Linked DNA regions of Homo sapiens. The gene in region 2 interacts genetically with the main gene of each other region. Each region holds a gene or a part of one and is shown on either strand. Other genes may lie near its edges.

Region 1 (2,982 bases), on a different chromosome or scaffold from region 2:
AGGGGATCCTGGTGCCTCTATTGAAGACTTTGCCCTGCCACTTCCACAGCAGTAAGCCGAAAGGATGAAGAGTTAGACCCCATGGACCCTAGCTCATACTCAGACGCCCCCCGGTAAGTGACAACCCCTCTTGACTCAGTACGTGGACACCATCCTCCGGCCTCCTTCCTCCATTCCTCATTGGGACCAGGTGGGCTGTGTCCGCCACATCACCCATCCCCATCCCCTGACTCTTTCACCGGCAGGGGCACGTGGTCAACAGGACTCCCCAAGCGGAATGAGGCCAAGACTGGCGCTGACACCACAGCAGCTGGGCCCCTCTTCCAGCAGCGGCCGTATCCATCCCCAGGGGCTGTGCTCCGGGCCAATGCAGAGGCCTCCCGAACCAAGCAGCAGGATTGAAGCTTCGGCCTCCCTGGCCCTGGGTTAAAATAAAAGCTTTCTGGTGATCCTGCCCACCATACCTGAGTGCTTCCTTTGAGGCTGCCCAACCCAAGTCGGCAAGATACACAACACATTTTATTTGCAAAAACTCAGCTAAGAGATAGTGTGGAGCTGGCAGGGGCTGGGGGGCTGAGCTGAGGTGGGTCATGAGAGAGCTTAGTCATGTTGGCCCTGGGTGGGGCAGGGGTGGTGGGGACAGGGAGTCCAGTGTCTACCTCACTCTACCCCTAATACTGATCAGAGTTTGGTCCCAGCTGGGCCAAGGGCAAGAAGAGAGAACGAGGCCAGGCCAATGTCTTCAATCCCAGCGGCTAGGAACCCTTCACCTTGGTGAGCAACCTGTGGTGGGAATGGGGAGGAAAGAAAAACACAAAGCTGGGCTAGGCTGGCAGGCGGGTTTCCTGAGCAAGTGAGGGCGGCGGTGGTGAGGCTGGTAGTCCTGGGGTTAGTAATGGTGCCCACCTGGTCAGAAAGCTACACGTGGACTAAATAAATACAACATCTTTATTTGGCATTGGATATCCTGACATTTGTTCATTACAGTTCCTTAAAAAACAAACCAAAAAATCAGAACAAATTAATCAAAAATAAAGATCCAATGGCTCTATTTACATATAGCAAAGACAGCCCAGGCATCTTCCATGCACACACACACCCCGCCCCGATACAGTTAAGGGGTTAATAAGCTTTGGGGAGCGCAGGAGGCAGGTTCCACAGTTCATCAATCCCAAGACACCCCCATGAGGTAGGGGTGCCTCACACAGCCAGACGGATATCAAGAGTATGATTGGTAGCTTTTTCCTCTCCTAGACATCTCCAAAAATAAGCCTACATCTGGCAACTGACAGTGTCTTAAATACAATGAGATTCAGCCACTTCAAGGACCTCCATTTTTCCCACACCCTGGATCATTAATGATATGATTACACCACAAATCCCAAGTCCACTAAAAAAAACAAATGGCCCCTACCACACCTTCTGCCAGAAGGGCTGATGCAAAAATCTTAGCTCTTGTCCCTTTCTCCCTGGGGACTCACAAGAAGCCCATCTTCAAGGTATCAAGGAAGCTGGCCCAAGGCCACACAAAAGACGGAACTAGTAACATGATCCAGAGCGGTGGTAAGGGAGGAGAGAAGGCCTCAAACTATGGGCAACTGAACCCCACAGGTAGGCATCGGTCATTCCTGAAGAGCTGCGGGAGTTTTGTCCAGTGTGTCCTTATGGAGGTGGAGGGACTGCTGGGAGGGACTCTCCCAGACGAGAAACCTCCAGAAGAGGGCACAGGGTCGGGGAGGGAGCAGACAAAAAAAAGGCCTTGAATGACAATACCCCCAACCCTGCCTCCAAAGAGGTTAGAGGGAGCAGAGGCGGCAGCTCTAAAACCCCCTCCAGGGGAAGGGGGTCACCCTACCAGGAAGGGTTCACGTGACACCCAGCTCTAGTCCCACACCCCTCCAGAAGTCTCAGTGACCTGGGAGAAAAGACCATCTCCCAAACCCAGAGGAGCCAGGCCCCGGAGGGTGGCGACTTGGGTCCTGCAGATGCCCAACACCCTCCACCCCAGTCCCCCTCCCTTGTGTCCCCCCATTGCTGCCAGCCCTCACTTCACCAGCACTGACTTTGGCAGAAAGGGCTCCGTGATGAGGTCTCCACGGTGGGAAGACAGCTGCGGTGGTGGTGGCTGCCCGGGAGGCTGCTGGTGAACGCAGGGCCCGGAGGCGGAGGCAGAGGCAGAGGCTATGGCTTTGGCTGCACCTCGGGGAAGGCTGTAGAGGTAGACAGCACCAATGACGAGTCCAGCGCCAAGGGCAAATAATGGGTCCACGTGGAAGCCAAAGAGGCGAATGGAGGCAACAGTGGACAGCACAATGGACAGGGAGGTGGCAAAGCCCTTGAGGATATTGTCAGCGTACTTGACAACCACAGCCACCAGTAGCCCGCCGAAGGCCTGGTTGAGCACCACGCCCCAGACAGCAGGTGTGTACCCAAAAAAGAAACCACGGGTGGCCACGGCGGTACCCTCAGCCCACCAGAGCCCCACCAGGCCCAGTGCTGTGCCGAAGAGGCCCAGTTGCAGGTTGCGCAGCCACACGGAGCCTGAGCTGCCTTTGAGGATCTTCTCAAAGTAGACACCTGCGAAGCCGGAGGAGAGACAGGAGGCCACGACGGCTGCCAGGCCTGCCCCAGGGTTCTGATCCAGTGGCCGTGGGCCTCCCCCACCGGCTTGCTGTGCCTGGACAATGGCGACGCCAGTGAAGAGGAGCAGCAGGGAGGCCCACTGCAGCCGGGAAAGGCTGCGATTCAGCATGAGCACGGAGAACAGCGCTGTGGTCAGGATCTTCAGCTGGTATGTCACCTGCGAGTGGCACGTGGAAGGCACTGAGGGCTGACCCTGGCCCCCAACAGGTGCACATGGGGGGCAGCACCCACTGTGGGCCCCCAGGCACAATGGAGGGACAGGGTGGGGGGTATGACAGCAAAAACAGCAAAAGGAGCCAGCCACTGGCCATTGGCTGAGCTGCAGCAAAACAGTTCTGA
Region 2 (3,844 bases):
CGGACGGGCAGGGGCTGGTCCACCACCTGCAGCCGCCCATCCAACAGCGCTGGGATCTCAGGGTTGGGGCTATGGAAGTGCAGGTTGGGGGCCCAGAGCCCGTGCTCCAGGGACAGCAGCACCTGCGGGGGTACGTGGTGGATGGGCAGCCGCCCCACTCCCTCTACCACTGCCTGAGCTGGGGGCAGGCACCTCCCCGAGACTCTCATGTGGGGCCAGGGTTCCAGGGCCCTCTCCGATGCACTTCCTGTCCCCAACCTAATTCTGCCATGGCACAGGGGTCCGAGGACTGAGCCGCCATGGCCCTGCCCTCAGCTTGGTCCAAGACCTCCCCTTCCGGCCTTGCTGCCTCCCAGCCTGATGTGGACCCACCAAAGCCTGGCTGTGGCCTGAACACTAAGGCCCCCTTGGCCCAGATGTTGCATCTCAGAGGCTGCAGAAGTTGGGGGGCAGAGGGCGTGAGTGATCATGGGTGTTGGGGCTCCTGTGCCTGGTCTCTCTAAAGGTCCCCAGGCCTCTGCTAGTGGGTCAGGAAGCTGTAGGGACGGGTGGGCGACACGGGAGACCCTGATGGTGCCGTGGACCCCCCCAGGCCTGCTCCTGCCTCGCTCTTCCCACCCAAGCGGCTCCTCCAGCTCGGCTCCGTGTCCGGCAGACGCTCTGCAGGGCATCAGGCCTCCAGGGAAGGCCCAGCGAGCCTGGCTACGAGCTCTCCCTGCTGTCAGCCTCAGTGCCTCTGCTCAGACCTGCAGCATAGCCCGGGGGACAGAGGCTCCTGGTGGGGAAGCCCCCGCCTCCACTTGGCAAAGAGAAAGCAGCAGTGCCCAGCCATGGCGCAACCCAGTCCCAGGGAGCAGGAGCCTGAGGGACCCCCAAGCCCAGCCCCACCTACCTTGGCCAGGGCTGCCAGCCCCGAGGCTGGCTCCGGGTGCCCCATGTTGGACTTGGTGGAGCCGATGAGCAGCGGCTCCTGGCGGGTGGCGCACAGGGCTCGGGTGATGCCATTCAGCTCCTGGGGGTCGCCCACCTGTGGGAAACATGGGGGGTGAGGGGCTCTGGCCAGGTCACCTCTCCAGGCATGGGCGTAGGTTAGGCTCATGGGGTGGTGAGTGGGGCGGGGGGGGGGGGCATCACCTTGGTGCCTGTGCCGTGGGCTTCGATGTATTCAAATGACTCAGGGGCCACTCCGGCCGACTGGTACAACGAGCGGATGAGCTGCTCCTGGATATCCCCTGAGGGGAAGGTCACGCCTGCGGAGGGCTCGGCTCAGTGCTGCAGCCCCAGCCCCGGCTCCCACCTGCCCCCCAGCACCCCGGAACCCCGGCAGAGCCCACCTTGCTCCTTGAAGCCATCTGTATTGGTGCCGGCGTTCAGGATGGTGGCGTACACCCGCCGGGCCAGGGACTTCTTGGTCAGCAGGACGGCCACCACACCCTCCGAGCGGCAGTACCCATTCCCTGGGTAGAGCAGCACCTCAGGCCCGGGGCTCAGCCCCACGCCGGCCCCCACCCCACCAGGAGGAGCTCTGGGGTGTGGGGTGGGTGCTTGGGTGGGGGATCCCCGGAGCTGGCAGGATCCTGCTCAGCGTGGGGACTGTGCGGGGGGCCGTCCTGTGCCACTGTCCCGCCTGCCCTGGCCGCGCAGCCGCACACTCACCCGCTGTGTCGAAGGCCTTGCAGGTGCCCTCGGGGCTGAGCATCCCCAGCCTCAAGAACTGCACGGAGGTGTTGGGCTTCAGCAGGACATTGATGCCCCCCACGATGGCGGCAGGGCACTGCCCGCTGTGGATGGCCTGGTAGGCGTTCTGCAGGGCCATCAGGCTGGAGGAGCAGGCTGTGTCCAGTGCGATGCTGGGCCCTGCAAGGAAGGGTGCTGCGGCTCAGGTGGGGCTGTGAGCACACGAGACCCCTGAGCACACCTCCTGCCACCAGGCTGGACACACACTGCACGGAGTGAGCCCACGCCACGTGGTTTCTGCTCAGCATGTGGGGACCTGAAGGCCACCCACCTCCGCAGGAGGCTGGGCAGGACCCACCTCTGAAGTCGAAGAAGAAGGAGAGCCGGTTGGCCATCATCGCTCGCTGGCAGCCCACCATGCTGTAGCCCACGAGTGTCTCGGGGTCTCGGCTCAGGGCCTCCGAGGTCTCAGAGCCGCTCACGCCCACCCAGACGCCAGTGTGTGTTCCTCGGAGTGAATCTGGGTTGATGCCTGCCACAAACAGTGGTCAAGGTGCCACGGCCGGGCCCCACAGCGCAGCCAGCCCACCCACCCACCCGGCTCTGGGGCGAAGGTCCCATCTTGGCCTCACTGGCTTGGGGTGAGGGGGGGTCCATCCCAGTGGGACCCTGGAAGGGGCCTAAGGAGGGTGAGGTGTCCTGCAGAGGGGCCAGAACAGAGCCTGTGGCCAGCAGCCAGCCCAGGTGAGGCCTGGAACAGGAACCAGGTCACAGAGGGAACGAGGCGGAGGGGGCAGGCGGGCCCAGGGGAGGGCACCAGGCACGGCCAGAGTGGCTCCAGGAAGGACAGAGGGCAGCATTGTCCCCAGGCGACGCCTTTGGCCCCTGGTGTCACCGGCAGCTCTGATGAGCCCGTCGGCCAGTGGCCTCTCCAGCGCCAAGGGCAGCCTGCACCAGAACAGGCCGTGATAAGGAACCGAGGAGACAAAGGCCAAGTGTCCAGGCTCGGGAAGGAGAGAGGGACACCGGTCACCCCCGGGGAGCATAACCTTAGTCTTGGGGTGGGGTCTGGCAGCAGGAAGGGCGCAGGAGAAGGGCTTCCACCTCTCGGCCAGCAGGGCCCCTCCTCGCCCCTGGTGGGCTGGCTCTGCCCTAGGGTGGGTGGGTGTGTGAACCGCTCACACCCAAGGGCAGCCCAGGGCTCAGCCTCCCCCTCAGGAGGTCCTTCTCCGCCCGGGGAGGGAGCACCTGGATCTTAAGAAATGGCATGGCTGGGCGTGGTGGCTCATGCCTGTAATCCCAGCACTTTGGGAAGCTGAGATGGATGGATCACGAGGTCAAGAGATCGAGACCATCCTGGCAAACATGGTGAAACCCCATCTCTACTAAAAATACAAAAATTAGCCGGGCGTGGTGGTGGGCGCCTGTAGTCCCGGCCACTCAGGAGACTGAGGCAGGAGAATGGTGTGAACCCAGGAGGCAGAGCTTGCAGTGAGCTGAGATCGCGCCACTGCACTCCAACCTGGTGACAGAGTGAGACTCCGTCTTAAAAATAAATAAATAAATAAAAATAAAAATAAAAAAACGGCGTGGCGCTTGTCCGAGGTCAAATGCCAGTCAGAGCGAGGGCCAGGCTGGCGGGAGAGGGTTGAAATGCCTGGGGTGGGGGGACGTGGGCAAGGGTAGTGGGGAGGGTGGGAGGGGAGAGACAGCAGGGCCGGTGCTGTCCGCTGCTTGGCTGGTGGGGGTGGGGGCCTGGAGGGCCCCTCAAGAACCTCCTGCTTTGCCTCTCGTCACTCCAGCCCCGGCCCCGGCCCCAGCACCAGCCAGACATCAGAAGCGAGGAGACTGGTACGCTCAGGTCAGGGCACACCCGCGACACCTCTGGGGTGCAGTTGGGAAACTGCGGCCTACCCCGTGGCCCACACCTCCCTGAGCCCGTTGGCCAGGCCAGGGGCACAGCCGGGGAGGGTAGGTGGTGCCAGCACCTGGTTCTACCAGAACCAAGAAGAGAAAACACTGCCTATTCCACGTGAGCAGCAGGAGCCCTCGGCGCAGCAGTCGCGAATGCCCGACCCACCTCCGTCCACGATGGCTTCATAGGTGACTTCCAGCAGCAGCCGCAGCTGAGGGTCCATCGTGTGTGCCTGCTTGGGGTGGACTCCGA
Region 3 (3,500 bases), on a different chromosome or scaffold from region 2:
GTCCTTTCAGGGACAAGGATGAAGCTGAAAACCATCATTCTCAGCAAACTATCACAAAAACAGAAAACCAAACACTGCATGTTCTCACTCACAAGTGGGAGTTGAACAATGAGAACACATGGACACAGGGAGGGGAACATCATGCACCAGGGCCTGTCAGGGGTGGGGGGCTGGGGGAAGCATAACATTAGGAGAAATACCTAATGTAGGTTATGGGTTGATGGTTGCAGCAAACCACCATGGCACGTGTATACCTACGTAACAAACCTACACATTCTTCACATGTACCCTAGAACTTAAAAGTATAATTTACAAACAAACAAACAAACAAACCCCCGAGGTATTGGTACAACTGCATTCTCTCTTGGGACTTTAGAGGAGAATCTGTTCCTTGCTTTTTCTAGCTTGTAGAAGCTTCCCACATTTCTTGGCTCATGGCTCCATGTCACTTGAGTCTACTTCCGTTGTTACATCCCGTTCTCTGACTCGGACCCTTCTGCCTCTTTCTTCTAAGGATCCTCATGATTACATTGGCCCACATGGCCCCTCCCTCACCTCAAAAAAGATATCTAATTATAATCAAATAAGTCTGCATGTAAAATTTATTTTTTCTCGCCTTAGAGGTAGTCTTCTTTTTTTGTAAAAAATAAAATGTCATTTGAATCAGACGTTTGAAGTAGGATTCCTAATAAATGATTAGTTGCGTGCTAATAGTGGCAGACAATTATTACATCAAATATAACAGAAGTTATAAAATCTGTCCCCAAAATGAATTCTAAATGATTGGATCCAGAATTATTAATACTCAATTGTTAAAAAACAGTTACAGGAACTAAGCTCATCTTTTAATTGTATTATATGGAAGATTATATCTAAATAATATAACTTTCATTTACATACAGTTTTAGAATGCACAAAACATGTTCACTCACATCTTCGCATTTATTGTATATCAGGCAGGTATGCTTAGGACATTTCAATTTTAAAGAGGAGGGGAGATTTTGTTTATATTAAGTGATATCCTTTTTCTGCCAAATGAGGATATTTCCCAACCTATAACTTCAAGTTATAACCTAACAAATAAATACATAAAAGTATGTGAAATACCATATATAAACAAAAATAAACAACAACAAATTACAAATTAGTCCAACAGTATTTAGCAAATAGCCTAATGTATGCTCTGATAAGTATGAGAACAAGCACTGGAGGCAATGGCAGCCAAAGCATATAAAAATGAAAGGATTTAGCAAAGTGGTCAGAAATGAGAAGGCAATCTAGAGAAAAGGTATCACAAAAGAAAAGTATGAAGCTGAAGTGAGGCATAGCCTATGAAGAAAAAAAAAAGCAAAGAATATGCTTAAGCATCAGAATTAGATTGGTGATTAACTCATAAATGAGTAACAATGAAAAGACAGGGCTTCCTTTGTGTTTACAAGGTACATACCTGCGTGGTAGCACCTATCAGTTATTGTTGATTTGCCTGTCCATCTCTTTGGTTACAGGAAGAACTCCTACAGAGCAGGGCAGCAACTTGCAGAGTTCTACTCACACTTTGCACTGAACAGCTCATTTTAGCACTAGAGGGTTCTAACCACCTTCCCTGACATCTTCTCTTTAACAGCATGAGTAATTCCCTTCATGCCACTGTCTCTGTCAGGCTTAGGTTTCCTTGCCTACAAAATGAGGAGGTTGAAAAGGATTCATATTCTAGGTCTAAAATACTGTGATAAACATATCTTCTGGTTATGTAGAGTAAAGCAGTACATGTCTTGTAATTCCATGTTGTCCATAAAGACTTCCAGGTGCTCTGGGACCTCAATTTTTCTGGCAAATAGAGAAAGTATTATTCTTTGGCATGTTTTCCACTTATTGCTGTGCTTTTTTTTTCTGATTTGGTTAGTCCTATATTAACAAGTAAATATATCCTAAATTTTCTACTATAATTTCACACTAGCTTGCAAATGTTTTTCTTGAATAATATAACGTATTATTTCATAGAAGTAATAACTTATCAATAGTTGACTCATTAATTGTTTTGGGATCATCATGGGCAAAATAAATATGTCCTCTCCCATAAATAAACTTATGACTTATTTTTTACCACCTTTTATCGTAATTACACACAGATGTCTTTTTCTACCCCTTTGAAGGCAGAAACTATTTGAACATCAGTGGTGCCCAGGAGAACACTTTGGATGTAATAGGTACTTGATGAGTATTTGTCAAATAAATAATGATTATGTTGATTATTAATGGAAAAGAAATTAGAAGAATATGAAAGCAAGAGTGCATGAATATTGCATATGGTAATGAAAATGTCTTGTCATATTTTACAAATTGCATTTTTTAAGAAAATCCACCTAGAGTTGTTGTCTTAATTTTCTTAGATCACTCCTTCCCTCATTATTAATATGCACAAAGAGGTTAAGTCTTAGTGTTAGAAATACTGAAGCCTTCCATTCAATCAAGCATAACTCTGACAATCTTTTCCATGATGCATACAGGCTTAAGAAAAGCAGATAGTGTTCTCTTAGCATATAAAGAGAGCAACATAAATTAGAGCATGGATGATAAGGTAACAAACTGAAGAAAGTTTCTGTTTTTCACTACACTAATTTTAACAATTTATGGCAAAGAAATCACACTACTCACCATCAACTAAATTCATTTAAAAACAAAGTTTATGTGTAAAAATAACCCCAAATAACTGAAGAGAAATGTTTACATTACCATTCTGAGTTGTTAAAGCCAAGAAAAAGAAAAAAGAGGAAGGAGTTAATGGAACCCACAGGCTACTGATGTGGCAGTTTATCAAATGTAGCTGTAATGAAAGATAAATAATACAGGCAATTCACACTTCATGAAAGGATAAAAGTGTCGGTGTGTAGGTACCAGTTTTACTGCAGGCCATAATCAGCAAGTAAACGAAAGTGCAATGTCTAAAAAGTTTATAGCCTTCTATGAAGGCCTCGTCTTGTCAGGTATTGATTTAGATATTCAGATAACTTCACTGGTATTAAACAAATTGAGTGTTTGTGAACTTAGAAGACATGTTCTATTTTTCCCAACAAAAGTTGCCTCAAGCTTAATGTTCAGTTGCTTCCATCACTTAAATTTATGGGAAAAAAAGAAAATGCTGAAATGATATCTTACACAATTATTTTCTTCTTAAATAGAGGGCAATCCAAAGTGAAAGTTTCATACTCTCCACCTTCTCCACAAACATGTACTCCATACTTCTTAGAAAGCTGAAAATAGGAAAACACAAAAAACAAGAAAGAAGTTTAAAATTAGACAGCATAAATGCTCTCTTATCTGGTACTAAAAAATCCATACAAAAAACTTTAATTCCAAAATAGTTTGCAAGGTAAGGAAAATTAATTATATTTCTGCTTAAAACCTGTTTAAAGCCATTTCAAAAATGTTATCATAAGGCATAGGATCCCCAAGAATGCCAAAACTCTTAAAAAAAAATAACATTAAGAGGCCAGGCGCGT
Region 4 (4,260 bases), on a different chromosome or scaffold from region 2:
GGAAACCCGTCTAAAGAAAACAAAAAAAGGTAAAAGACAAGACAGTGCAGTGGAGGCCGGACGCAGTGGCTCACGCCTGTAATCCCAGCACTTTGGGAGGCCGAGGTGGGAAGATCACGAGGTCAGGAGATCGAGACCATCCTGGCTAACACAGTGAAACCCCGTCTCTACTAAAAAATACAAAAAATTAGCCGGGCGCGGTGGCGGGCGCCTGTAGTCCCAGCTACTTGGGAGGTTGAGGCAGGAGAATGGCGTGAACCCGGAAGGTGGAGCTTGCAGTGAGCCAAGATCGCGCCACTGCACTCCAGCCTGGGCGACAGAGCAAGACTCCGTCTCAAAAAAAAAAAAAAAAAAAAAAAAGTGCAGTGGAGATGACCGAATGAGGAAAGCTAGGAATTGCAGAGGATAGAGCAGAACTTGCACTTAAATTTAAGACCCTCAGACTCCTGCCATCTTGGGTGTTCTATCACACCTCTGGGGAACCCCAGGCTTTCTAGAAATGTCAAAACACATAGTGTTTACCTGCATGCCAGGTGCAATCTTACACATATTCATCTAATCCTAACGACGATGTATACAATAGGTTCTATCTTCCTCACCTTAAAGGTGTGAGAAATGATGGCACAGAGAAGCTGGTTAACTTGCCCAAGGGCACACAGCGTGTAAGTGGCAGAGATAGAACTCAGGCAGTCTGGCTTCAGAGGCCATGTTCTTAACCTTTACACTATACTACTTCGTGACTCTACCCCAAAATGTGGAGTGAAGTTGAAATTTTGTGCCCCAGAACATGAGTTTCAGCCACTAGGGTCCCGCTCAGGGTCGGGTCTGATCACAGGGAAGGGTACGGGGAGCCAAACAGGTAATATCACGGGTAGCAGCCAAGTTCCCACCCTTGTGCCTAAACCCAGCTCAGGTCTTTCTGAAGCTAGGAGCACCGGAACTACGGAGGAGAAACAGCTCCGCGCTCTCACCAGCGGGCCCTCTTCCTCCTCCATATCTGAGGTCCCAGCCCGCAACACCAGTTCCCGGGCCGCAGCCGCCATGGTCGCAGCGGCGGCCATTCCCCGCAGCCTCACTTCCGGCAACTGTCAGTCCCGGCGAGTCCGTTCCCCGGAGTGGAGCTACAAGTCCCAAAGGGTCTTCCTCAGCGCGAAATCGTTCCCAGATATTTGAGTTAAGTTGTTTGACTCCAGCTGTCCCCTTTCAGCTCTAACCACTTCACCCAACTGCAAATGGAAATATGGAAGTCTGAAACACAAACTAGCCCCGGAACCTTCGCTGTTCTCTTACCTATGAACCTTACGAACTGTAAAGAAAGGCGCACCGGAAGTTGTGGTACCCAAGCCATACTCTCATAAATCCAGCCAGGTCGCGCTGAAACAGTTTCCGGAAGCACTTCTCCTAGATCGCACCGCCTCTTCCTCCTGGAAGCTATATAATGATATCGCGTCACTTCCGCTCTCTCTTCCACAGGAGGCCTACACGCCGCCGCTTGTGCTGCAGCCATGGTAAGACTGGAATCCGTGCCGTGATCCAGCGGCATCGCAGCTCGGGCAAGGAAAGCCGGCTGTCAGGGTTCTGGAAACGTCCTGCCCTGAGGGCCTGCGACTTTCTGTATGGAGCCTTGGATCGCGTCCCTGGAAAGGGACACCAAAGATTTCCAATTCCGGAGAGCGGGCCCGAGGAAGGGTCACTGCTCGGGCGCACGAAAGCTGTCTAAGGCTTGGGCGTATATGGGGAACTCTGGCTTTTGCCACGCACTTTTGGGAATGGGCAGGAGACCTGCTTCCTCTCTCCAGAGGTTGCATTTTCCCAAGCTTGAACGCTTCATGTGCCTACTCTGCAGGACTGAGGAGTTTGCTCTGTGGTGTGAAAACCTAAGGAATGGGGGGCGGGTGTCTTGCCACTTGTGTGACAGGCTTAACCTTTTTGTATGAAGTTCGTTTGCCTTATCGGCCTTACTGTTTGATAGTTTACTGTGTCTGATTTCTTCCCCCGTACTTTTTCAACTAGTCTCTAGTGATCCCTGAAAAGTTCCAGCATATTTTGCGAGTACTCAACACCAACATCGATGGGCGGCGGAAAATAGCCTTTGCCATCACTGCCATTAAGGTAAGTGAAGTAGGGTAAGGAATAGGGAATGTAAATGAGAATTGGGTTGTGAAGACATAAGCAAAAATGAAGCAAGGCTGGGGAGACTTGAGTCTCATCCAGATCACCTTGACTGCTGGATTAAGAAAAGAAAGTGGTTTAGGGAGAGACTGACCCCTTTAGCATTTACCACAGAAAATAAGTGATTAAAGCCAAGATAGTGGTCTAAGGTCAAGCCAAAACATTTCACCTGGGGAAGTGGGGAGGAGGTATGGTTGCTCACCCGAATTCGCTAAGATTTTCCTGAACCACGAGCTTGTGAGATTTCTTCTAGATTCGGTTTCTTTACCCATCCCACCATCATAACAGCAACCCTTCCTGCGAAATTTATATTCCCTGAGAATTGGAGGATTATTGGGCATCTTGAGGGATAAGTAGAAATACCAACAGATAAAAAGTGTGAAGAAGCCTGTAGATGGAGGGTGGAAGAAGTCTGAGTGGGACATTTACTCAGATGAGCCATAATTGACACTCCTTTCCTGTCGAAGTGTGAAGGAGTACATCCATCTTTCTTTGGCTTTTAAGAATCGAATCAATGAATGCAAGAATATTATTTCACTTGAGTATTTCTCTCCACAAACCTAATGAATTCTTGGCTTTCTAGATACATAACGTTCTTTTTTTTTCCCTTAAGTCAGAATGTGTAGTTAGTTGTGGAAATAGCCTACCAGTATGTGTCCATGCGTGCAGGGCTAGGCCTGTCTTCTTGGCTTCTGTTGCATGGTAGGTACTTAGGCGACGTTAGGGAATGGATAGTAGTAGGGATACTGTTGGCTCTGTTGAGGAATTTGTAGAGGGAAATTCCTTCTGTTGGGTGCTCTGTGAAACTAATAAGGCAGTGTGAAATACTGTACTTATTTCAGAGACCGGCTGTGAGGCTTAAGTAGAGGTGCAGCATTCATAAGTGTAATAGAGAATAACCTTCATGGATGTATCTAACTAAAAATTAGAAATCTTATTTCATCTATATCTCTTCCCACACCCATTTTGAAGTAAATCTTTTCACTTGTAAACATATAATTAAATTTGAGGCTTAGTGCAGTGGCTCACTCGGAGGCTGAAGTGGGCGGATCCCCTGAGGTCAGGAGTTCGAGACCAGCCTGGTCAACATGGTGAAACCTCGTCATTTAATTAATAAATTTGAAAGACCCTGCTCTCTTCTGAATCAACCTAATAATTTGACCCTTGGTCATGTTTATTTATTTATCCCGAGACAGAGTCTCACCCCGTCACCCAGGCCGGAGTGCAATGGTGCAATCTTATCTCACTGCAACCTCAGCCTCCCAAGTAGCTGAGATTACAGGCACACGCCCAGCTAATTTTTGTATTTTTAGAAGAGATGGGGTTTCACCATGTTGGTCAAACTGGTCTTAAACTTCTGACCTCAGGTGATCCACCCACCTCAGCCTCCCAAAGTGCTGGGATTATAGGCGTGAGCCACTGCACCCAGCCACATTTATTTTTTGAGACTGTCGCCCAGGCTGGAGTGGCGGAATCACTCTTCACTGCAGCCTCGACCTCCAGGGCTCAAGTCAATCCTCCTACCTCAACTTTCCAAGTAGTTGGGGCTACAGGTGTGCACCACCACATCTGGCTAATCTGGATCTTGCTGTGTTGTCCAGGCTGGTCTTGAACTCCTGGGCTCAGTGATCCTCCAGCCTCAGCCTCCTAAAGTGCTGGGATTACAGGCATATAGGCATGAGCCACGGTGAAGCCAACCCTTGATCTCTTTCTTGCAGATAGGAACTGCCATTTGTTTTAGTTTCCTGGAGCCTACTGTAACAAGTTCATATAAACTAAGCAGAAAATTACTCTTGGCGCTGGAGGCACTTAAGAATCCTACCTTGCCTCTTCCTGTCTTCTGGTGGTTGTCAGTAATCCTTAGTGTTCCTTGGCTTGTAGCTGCATTACTCCAATCTGTTGCTGTCATCTCATGGTCCTCTTCGTGTCTCTCTCATGATTTGTCATTGGATCTAGAGCCCACCCTAATCAAATATAACGTCATTTTACCTAATTATTTCCGTAACGACCTTATTTCCAAATAGGGCCACATTCTGATGTTCTAGTTGGACAAAATGAGGGGCAGGGCTCAGTATTCAGTTCCTCCTT

What was found.
Region 1: changes in FASN (region 2) and SLC35A2 together harm fitness more than expected from each alone (negative genetic interaction), as found in Homo sapiens cells (one large-scale study listed by BioGRID).
Region 3: changes in FASN (region 2) and DPH6 together harm fitness less than expected from each alone (positive genetic interaction), as found in Homo sapiens cells (one large-scale study listed by BioGRID).
Region 4: changes in FASN (region 2) and RPS18 together harm fitness less than expected from each alone (positive genetic interaction), as found in Homo sapiens cells (one large-scale study listed by BioGRID).

What each region holds. Positions count from the first base shown.
Region 1 is NC_000023.11:48,902,683-48,905,664, forward strand, and holds the end of SLC35A2 (UDP-galactose translocator), read right to left. Parts: intron 2,801-2,982; coding exon 2,064-2,800; coding exon of another isoform or gene 1,908-2,063; exon of another isoform or gene 784-1,907; coding exon 756-783; coding exon of another isoform or gene 682-755; 3' UTR 501-681; downstream 1-500. Other genes in the region: PQBP1 (polyglutamine-binding protein 1), read left to right, coding at 50-113, 246-402. UniProt on the Homo sapiens protein: Transports uridine diphosphate galactose (UDP-galactose) from the cytosol into the Golgi apparatus, functioning as an antiporter that exchanges UDP-galactose for UMP.
Region 2 is NC_000017.11:82,091,563-82,095,406, forward strand, and holds part of FASN (fatty acid synthase), read right to left. Parts: coding exon 3,758-3,844; intron 2,210-3,757; coding exon 2,036-2,209; intron 1,858-2,035; coding exon 1,657-1,857; intron 1,458-1,656; coding exon 1,335-1,457; intron 1,251-1,334; coding exon 1,135-1,250; intron 1,028-1,134; coding exon 893-1,027; intron 123-892; coding exon 1-122. UniProt on the Homo sapiens protein: Fatty acid synthetase is a multifunctional enzyme that catalyzes the de novo biosynthesis of long-chain saturated fatty acids starting from acetyl-CoA and malonyl-CoA in the presence of NADPH.
Region 3 is NC_000015.10:35,378,666-35,382,165, forward strand, and holds part of DPH6 (diphthine--ammonia ligase), read right to left. Parts: intron 3,252-3,500; coding exon 3,157-3,251; intron 1-3,156. UniProt on the Homo sapiens protein: Amidase that may catalyze the last step of diphthamide biosynthesis using ammonium and ATP. Diphthamide biosynthesis consists in the conversion of an L-histidine residue in the translation elongation factor (EEF2) to diphthamide.
Region 4 is NC_000006.12:33,270,615-33,274,874, forward strand, and holds the start of RPS18 (small ribosomal subunit protein uS13), read left to right. Parts: upstream 1-1,460; 5' UTR 1,461-1,505; coding exon 1,506-1,508; intron 1,509-2,013; coding exon 2,014-2,112; intron 2,113-4,260. Other genes in the region: VPS52 (vacuolar protein sorting-associated protein 52 homolog), read right to left, coding at 972-1,061. UniProt on the Homo sapiens protein: Component of the small ribosomal subunit. The ribosome is a large ribonucleoprotein complex responsible for the synthesis of proteins in the cell.